Linked DNA regions of Homo sapiens. The protein of the gene in region 1 interacts with the protein of each later gene in a pairwise test. Each region holds a gene or a part of one and is shown on either strand. Other genes may lie near its edges. The genes, in order: TACC3 and ARNT2.

Region 1 (3,811 bases):
CCCGCCTTTCCCCAGATGTTTGTGGTTGTCACACCTGGAGGTGCTGCTGGCAGGGAGTGGGTAGAGGCTGGGGATGCCGCTCAGCACCCTGCGGTGCCCAGGAGGCGCCTGCCGCAGACAGCAGTCAGGCCCCGAACATCCACACCTCCAAGGGAGGAAATACTGCTGGCTGGAATGATCCTGCCTCACTGAGTGCTGAGGGAGACACCAGCCCGCCGCCCTTAGGGCCCTGGTGAGGGGCGATGGCGGCGGCATGATTCACTCCTCTCAGTTCTAGGCACGGGCGCGGAGGTGGATTACCTGGAGCAGTTTGGAACTTCCTCGGTAGGTACCAGGCAATTCCGCGAAGCCTCACCCACAGGGTGTCCGAGAGCAGCCACGGCAGGTCTTGCCCCCGGAGCGTCCCTTGGTGCCCACGTCCCCCCAGCTGCACACAGGCCCAGGCATTGTGGCGGGCTGTGAATCCAGGGCCCCTTCTGCAGCACCTCCTCTAAGTGGTGTCCTGTGGCAGGGCTCTAGGGCTCTCTACCTGGTGCCTAGCCCAGGATGAAACTCTGACACGCTGTGCTGCTGGGAATGGTGGTGTCTCGGGCAGGGTTGTGGGTGACCGGGGGTGGGAGTGTGCGGGTGACCGGGGGTGGGAGTGTGCAGGTGACCTCCCTGGCCCTTAGCCCCCGTGTGTGTTAGGGGATGGCAGTCAGACCTGATCACTTGCCCTCTTGTCCCCAGTTTAAGGAGTCGGCCTTGAGGAAGCAGTCCTTATACCTCAAGTTCGACCCCCTCCTGAGGGACAGTCCTGGTAGACCAGTGCCCGTGGCCACCGAGACCAGCAGGTATGTGCGCCGGCCCTCCCTCATGCATGAAGCCTTGAGTGTGGGAAGACTGGAGGCTGTTCCTAGGTGTGCTGTCTGCACAGAGGCTTCTAGACCGGGGGGAGATGATCAGAACTGGAAAGGAGCTGTGCTAGGGGTGGGCTGGGCAGCAAGGCCAGAGCAGCCCTTGTGTGTCTGGCAGGAGCAACGGCAGCCTACCCTCCAGCCACAGGGCTGCTGCCTTGCTGGTTACAGCCACCGTTCTAGGTATATTAAAGATCTAAACTTAAATCTTTTAAGAGTACTTCCTCTAAAACAGAGGTCGGCAGGCCAGGCGCGGTGGCTTACGCCTGTAATCCCAGCACTTTGGGAGGCCGAGGTGGATGGATAGCCTCAGCTCAGGAGTTTGCCACCAGCCTGGGCAACATGTTGAAACCCCGTCTCTACTAAAATACAAAAATTAGCCGGGTGTGACGGCATGCACCTGTAGTCTCAGCTACTTGGGAAGCCGAGGCAGGAGAATTGCTTGAACCCAGGAGGCGGAGGTTGCAGTGAGCTGAGATTGCGCCACTGCACTCCAGCCTGGGCAACAGAGTGAGACTCCATCTCAAAAAAAAAAAAAAAAAAAAAAACCAAAAAATAGAGGTCAGCAAACTATCACCTGTGGGCCAGACTTGGCCACTGCCTGTTTGTGTAAAGTTTTATCGTCACAGAGCCATGCCCGTTCCTTTGCAAATTGTGGCAACTTTCACACTACAAGGCCAGAACTGAGTAGTGTGACAGAGGCTGTGTGGCCTTCAAATCCTAACACATGGCCGGGCGCAGTGGCTCACACCTGGAATCCCAGCCCTTTGGGAGGCTGAGGCGGGTGGATCGCCTGAGGTCAGGAGTTTGAGACCAGCCTGGCCAACATAGTGAACCCCCATCTCTACTAAAAATAACAAAAATTAGCCGGGTGAGGCGGCAGGCGCCTGTAATCCCAGCTACTTGGGTTGCTGAAGCAGGAGAATCGGGTGAGCCTGGGAGGCAGGGGTTGCAGGGAGCCGAGATCATGCCACTGCACTCCAATCTGGGTGACAGAGTGAGACCCTGTCTCGGAAAAAGAAAAAAAAAAAGGCTCTGAGCTGTGAACAGCCCCCTGATGAGGCAGCACTGGCTCCGCTCAGCCTGCAGTGGGTAATGAAGCGTCACCGTGCTCTCCCGGAAGGACAAGCAGCCACGTGGGATGGGCAGGTGAGGGAGGGGGGCACGGAGCAGCAGAGAGGCCGGGCATGCTGGATGCGGGTCTGCGTTTTCTACCACTACCCTGACTTGAGTGGTTTTAAACTAAAAAGCAAAGAGCCCGGTTAGCTTGTCCACATGGTCCTCTGTGTCCTACTCAACACTGGGAGGGCCTAGTGACTGAGGCTGCCTCTGCTTGGTGGCAGCATGCACGGTGCAAATGAGACTCCCTCAGGACGTCCGCGGGAAGCCAAGCTTGTGGAGTTCGATTTCTTGGGAGCACTGGACATTCCTGTAAGTCCTTGAGTCCCTCTTGAACTGTCTTGTGTGTGGTCTGAGGGAACGAGTTGTTTTAAGGGCCTATATTTTCTATTCCTGGGGGTCTGAGCCTTTGGTTTTGTTGGGGGCATGGGGCCGCTGTGCTGTTCCCTCGCCGCACTGTCTCGGGTCCCTCATGCACTGTCTGAGGCTCTTGGCCTGTGTGGGCCTTTCCTCCCTCACACTAGGTCAGAGGTAAGAGGCAAGGGCGAAATGGGTTCCTGTTTCATCCCCATCTCCCGCAGGTGCCAGGCCCACCCCCAGGTGTTCCCGCGCCTGGGGGCCCACCCCTGTCCACCGGACCTATAGTGGACCTGCTCCAGTACAGCCAGAAGGACCTGGATGCAGTGGTAAGGACGCAGGTAGTAGCTATTCCACAGAACCTGCAGGCCGCTCTGGGGCTTGGCCAACAGTGGGCAGGGGTCCAACAGCCTGACCCGCCATCCCTGCCATCCCTGCCCCTGCTGGTTGGGGTGGAATTGCAGAGAGCTGCCGGCCCCTGGCCTGTCACTACTGCCCAGGTCGCTGAGGGTCCAGGCTTCCACCCAGTGTCCCCGCAGTCAGCTGCCCACCAGCAGCCTCCCCGGGACTCTCCGGCCTGGGCATGGCGTTGGCCTCTGGTGGCCTTGCAGCAGTGAGTGTGGTTCTTGCTGCCGTGAGCCCGAGTGTCGCCCCTTTCCTCCCGCCCTCCCACGAGTCCAGACGCATCTCCTGGCAGCTTAGGAAGCTCCATCTTCACCCACCCCACATCTGAGGGTCCCGTGCCTTGTCTCCCTCCATCCTCACTGTACATGCCAGGCTTCAGCCTGTTCTAACTCCGGGCCTAAATTGTCCCTAAGAGAGCTGTAGGCACACAAAGGGGCTGGGTGTCTGCAGGCACCACTGTGAGCTACCGTCGCCAGATGGTCCCCAGGGAGGTGCAGACAGGGTGGTTCCGGAGGCCGGCTGGCAGGGCTGGGTTCAAGCCCCAACATCCACACCAGTGTTGTTCACAGTGGCCCCAGGTGTCATCTCCGCAGAGGCCTGTGATGTGGCCCTGACCCCGTACCCCAACAACCTCCTTCCCTGTGTCAGAGCCCGTGTGAGTAACCCAATAGCAGGCCTGGGGACCACAGTGTGGCTGGCCCCCTCCTCTGCAGGCCTGGGCTCCGGGGGCAGGTGGCCCCTGCATGTAACTTATGTTAGAAATGCACAATGCTTGTTCTCTGGTGCCACAAAGAAATAGTGCTCGAACATTAATTTTCTCAGCAAGGCAGTTTTTACTTTCTGCAGAAAGGGTGCCCCTCGCAGATGGAGCAATGGCAAGAGCACACCTGAACAAGGGAGGGGAAGGGGTTCTTATTCCTGACACAGGTAGCCCTACTGCTGTGTTGTTCCCCTGTTGGCTAAGGTTGGACCACACAGTCTAAGCCAATTCCAATTGGCTATTTTAAAGAGGGCAGGGTAAGAGTCAGAGTGGT
Region 2 (3,811 bases), on another chromosome or scaffold:
CTCGCACATGAAGTCCATGAGGGGTACAGGGAACAAGTCCACCGATGGCGCGTACAAGCCTTCCTTCCTCACAGAGCAGGTACCCTGGTCATCACATCACCATTGGAAAGCGGGGGGAATCCCAGCGTCACCAAGACGAAATAAACTACGTGGGGAACCAGGGCTCAAGGTTGAGGAAGGAATGAAGCCAACATGTTTTGTTTCCATTTTTCTCCAAGAAGCTGTCTTCAAAAGAGGGTTTGTCTGATCTTTGGGTCTTCTGCTTTTATGTTTCCCATAACCTTAATGGGATGTCACTCAAAAAAATATATTGAGCATTTGAACATCGTGCTCAGCACACTGACACAGGAAGAAGTTAGTAAAAACGCTGTATGCTGGAATTGTGCTGATATGATCAGCCTATGAAAGTGATGGTATATGAAAAAATCTCCACATCACTGATCATTAGAGAAGTGCAAATCAAAACCACTATGAGATACCATCTCACTCCAGTCAGAATGGCTATTACTAAAAAGTCAAAAAGTAACAGATGCTAGTGAGGTTGCAGAGAAAAGGGAACACTTATACACTGCTGGTGGGAGTGTAAACTAGCTCAACCATTGTAGAAAGCAGTGTGGAGGTTCCTCAAAGAGCTAAAAACGGAAATACCATTTGACCCAGCAACCCCATTACTGGGTTTATACCCAAGGGAATATAAATCGTTCTACATAAAGACATATGCTTACGTATGTTCATTGCAGCACTATTCACAATAGCAAAGACATGGACTCAACATAAATGTTCATCAATGACAGATTGGATAAAGATAATGTGGTACATATACACCATAGAATACTACACAGCCATATAAAAGAATGAGATCATGTCCTTTGCAGGAACATGGATGGAGCTGGAGGCCACTATCCTTAGCAAACTAATGCAGGAACAGAAAACCAAATACCACATGTTCCCACTTGTAAGTGGGGGCTGAATGATGAGAACACATGGACACAAAGAGGGGAACAACAGACATTGGAGCCTCCTAGAGGATGGAGGTTGGGAGGAGGGAGAGGATCAGAAAAAATAACTAATGGGTACTGGGCTTAGGATCTGGGTGATGAAATAATTTGTATAACAAATTTTCGTGACATGAGTTTACTCCCTTGGCAGTACGTAACAAACCTGCATGTGTACCCCTGAAAAAAGTTAAAGAAAAAAGACAGTGATGGCAGCAGTAGTGATAATAGTAGCCGCGATCAGAGCACTTAGCCGGCCGGCATTTGCTGGGTGCCTGGTGTGAGTCATAGTTTTCTGTGAAATATCTCATTTACTACTTATTCTAGCCCTGTGAAGAAGCCACTGTTATTTAGCTCTGTTTTATTGATGAGGAAGCTGAGGCTTAGAGTCAGCAGATTGCTCAGGGTTAATCTGCTGCTTAGTGGAGGAGCCAAGATTGGGTCCAGTGAAGACAGGCTGGTAGGACCCCAAAGCCATATTTTTAACACCTACACTAGTCTTTGACTAGTTGGCAAGAAGAAACGCACAAAATGGCTAGTGAGGTCGTATTTTATAAGTGGCTTTACATGAGCCAGAGGCCTGTGTTCAGGGTCTTTGTATTTCCATGTGCTGGTCATAGGGCAAGTTGGCAAATACTCTAAGCTTCAGTGTGCTCATCTGTGAAATGAACATAAAGCTTTTTGCTTTCCTGTCTCCAAGAGCTTTTGCAGGATAAATGAGGTGATGGATTTGAAAGCACTTCATTGTGTATAGCCGGTGGGGGGGCATTGGGGTGGGGAGGTGAAATAATACAGTTGTCAGGGCATGCAGTTAGGAAATGCAAAAGTATGTAGGGTATAGGGTCCTAAAAGTAATGGAGGATTTAACAAGACACAGCGTGTGGCCAAGCTGAAATAGAGTGGAAGTGTCCTGGTATTATCAAGAGGGACTTCTCAGGACAGAGACAGTATTGGCATAGAAAGGAGCCACAAAAAATACCTAGAAAGAGGGGAGCAGAAGGGATTTCACAAAAAGGGAAGAGTGTGTACAGAACCTCACAGGCAGGAATGAAAAAGATTTTGTTGGGAGACCTAATGATTTATTCTGCTAGAGCCGAGACTCGATTTATGTCATGGAAGTTAGGTTTAAAAAGAATAAGGGATGAGGAACTAACGTTTATTACTGTCTGTTCTGTGGCAGACACTTTAGCAAGCACTTCACCTATTTGATCCCTTTCTAAATCATCCCAGTGGTCATGGGAGCCCTCGCTTGGCAGATGTTAGGAAGGTCCAGCAGTGGTAATATGTGCCACTTGGAGGACACAAACTGTGGTGGTCAGGGCAGGAGCTTCAAGCCTCATTTCCACCTCTGTAAAAATAAATGCAGTGATAGCTCCCAGCTCGTGTGGTTGTGGTGAGGAAGGCAACAAGCATAGACTGTTTAACATGGGCCTGAGGTATAATGAAGGGTAAATAGCTGGTAAGTAACAGACAGAAATTATTGAGCACTACTGGCTGCTAGAATCAGTTTTTTGTCTATATTTTTTTAATCCTCACCAAAAGACCTACAGAGTCAAGGTTTGAAATGAATCTCGTTATCTTTAAGTGACTGAGGATTATGAAAGTGGCGTGAAGAGAGAAGGCAGCTATGCAGGTCAGATGAGCCCTACCTTTGTTCCTCTCTCAGCTGCTTGGATGGTGATGATAATGGTTACATTTATGGAGCACCTACTGTGTGCCAGGCCCTTACTAAGTCCTCACACACAGCATCTCATTTAACCTTGCAAGAGCTCACTGAAAAACATTGCTGAGGGCGTGAAGTAACATGCCCAAAGTTGCACAGCTAAGTGGGAGAGCGGTAGGTGATAGTCTCCTTTTACTCCAGAATACATGCTCTTAACCGTGACTGTTTTCTTGGAGTGTAGAGGCTGGTTCTGGATCAGGGCACAGGAACTTGGTAGTGATAGATGGTCTCCCAGGGAATACACATCAGGGAGGAGGGTGGAAAAAAGAGGGTCCGTGATGCGAGCAGGGCTTCATCCCATAAGACCTCCCCACAGTCTTTGCAAACTGGACAAAAATGTGAATTCATGAGTAAAGTCATTCAGTCTCCACTTCCTCTCCTCCAGTGACAAAGAATTCTGTACTTCCCCAGGCACCCTCTTCCGTTTTTAATTCTCTTAACAGCTCTTTCTGTTGGGAAGATCATCCAAAAACTGAAAATAAAAATGCTGACCGAATTCCCTGAACTAATTAAGCATCTAGGTGACGCAGAACAGCAAAAGTGCAAAGCAAGAGAAATGGGCAAAATAAACTTATCCTTAAAAAATGCTTGTACCAACTGCTTCTGCCCTGGTTTCCCAGGCAGAGGATGTTAGAATTCCTCCCCAGCCAAGGGCTTAGACACATTTACAAAGCTCCCTGGGTTCTGCTCATCAGCATATCAATGTTCCCTAGTCTCTGGGTCCTTGTACCCTGCTCAGTTACTGGGATTTGGGGCGCCAGACTCTCCACCTTTTGCCTTCACTCTGCTGGCTGTCCATGTGCTTTACAGTGGGGTTTTCACATAAGATTACATTCAAACAAAAGATTGCCAGCCAAAAGATGTTTGCTAGCTGCTGACCTAGAAGGATACCTTTGTCCTCTGGAGCCTGAACAGTACTTGAAGTGGTTGGAAGGGTGGCCATGGATTACAGTGTCTAGGGAAGACTTAGTGCCTGGCTCCTGCAGGCACAAAGCCCATTTCATTCAGTGGCAAAGGGCTCCTTAGCTTGATGTGAGAATAGTATGGGCAACTATACTTGAGCTGCCTTCAGGCGCTGCAAAGAAAAGACATC

The links.
Region 2: the proteins of TACC3 (region 1) and ARNT2 interact in a two-hybrid assay, tested with the Homo sapiens proteins (one large-scale study listed by BioGRID and IntAct).

The regions. Positions count from the first base shown.
Region 1 is NC_000004.12:1,735,002-1,738,812, forward strand, and holds part of TACC3 (transforming acidic coiled-coil-containing protein 3), read left to right. Parts: intron 1-271; coding exon 272-324; intron 325-729; coding exon 730-833; intron 834-2,239; coding exon 2,240-2,327; intron 2,328-2,596; coding exon 2,597-2,701; coding exon of another isoform or gene 2,702-2,713; intron 2,714-3,346; coding exon of another isoform or gene 3,347-3,391; exon of another isoform or gene 3,392-3,811. UniProt on the Homo sapiens protein: Plays a role in the microtubule-dependent coupling of the nucleus and the centrosome. Involved in the processes that regulate centrosome-mediated interkinetic nuclear migration (INM) of neural progenitors.
Region 2 is NC_000015.10:80,470,353-80,474,163, forward strand, and holds part of ARNT2 (aryl hydrocarbon receptor nuclear translocator 2), read left to right. Parts: coding exon 1-79; intron 80-3,811. UniProt on the Homo sapiens protein: Transcription factor that plays a role in the development of the hypothalamo-pituitary axis, postnatal brain growth, and visual and renal function. Specifically recognizes the xenobiotic response element (XRE).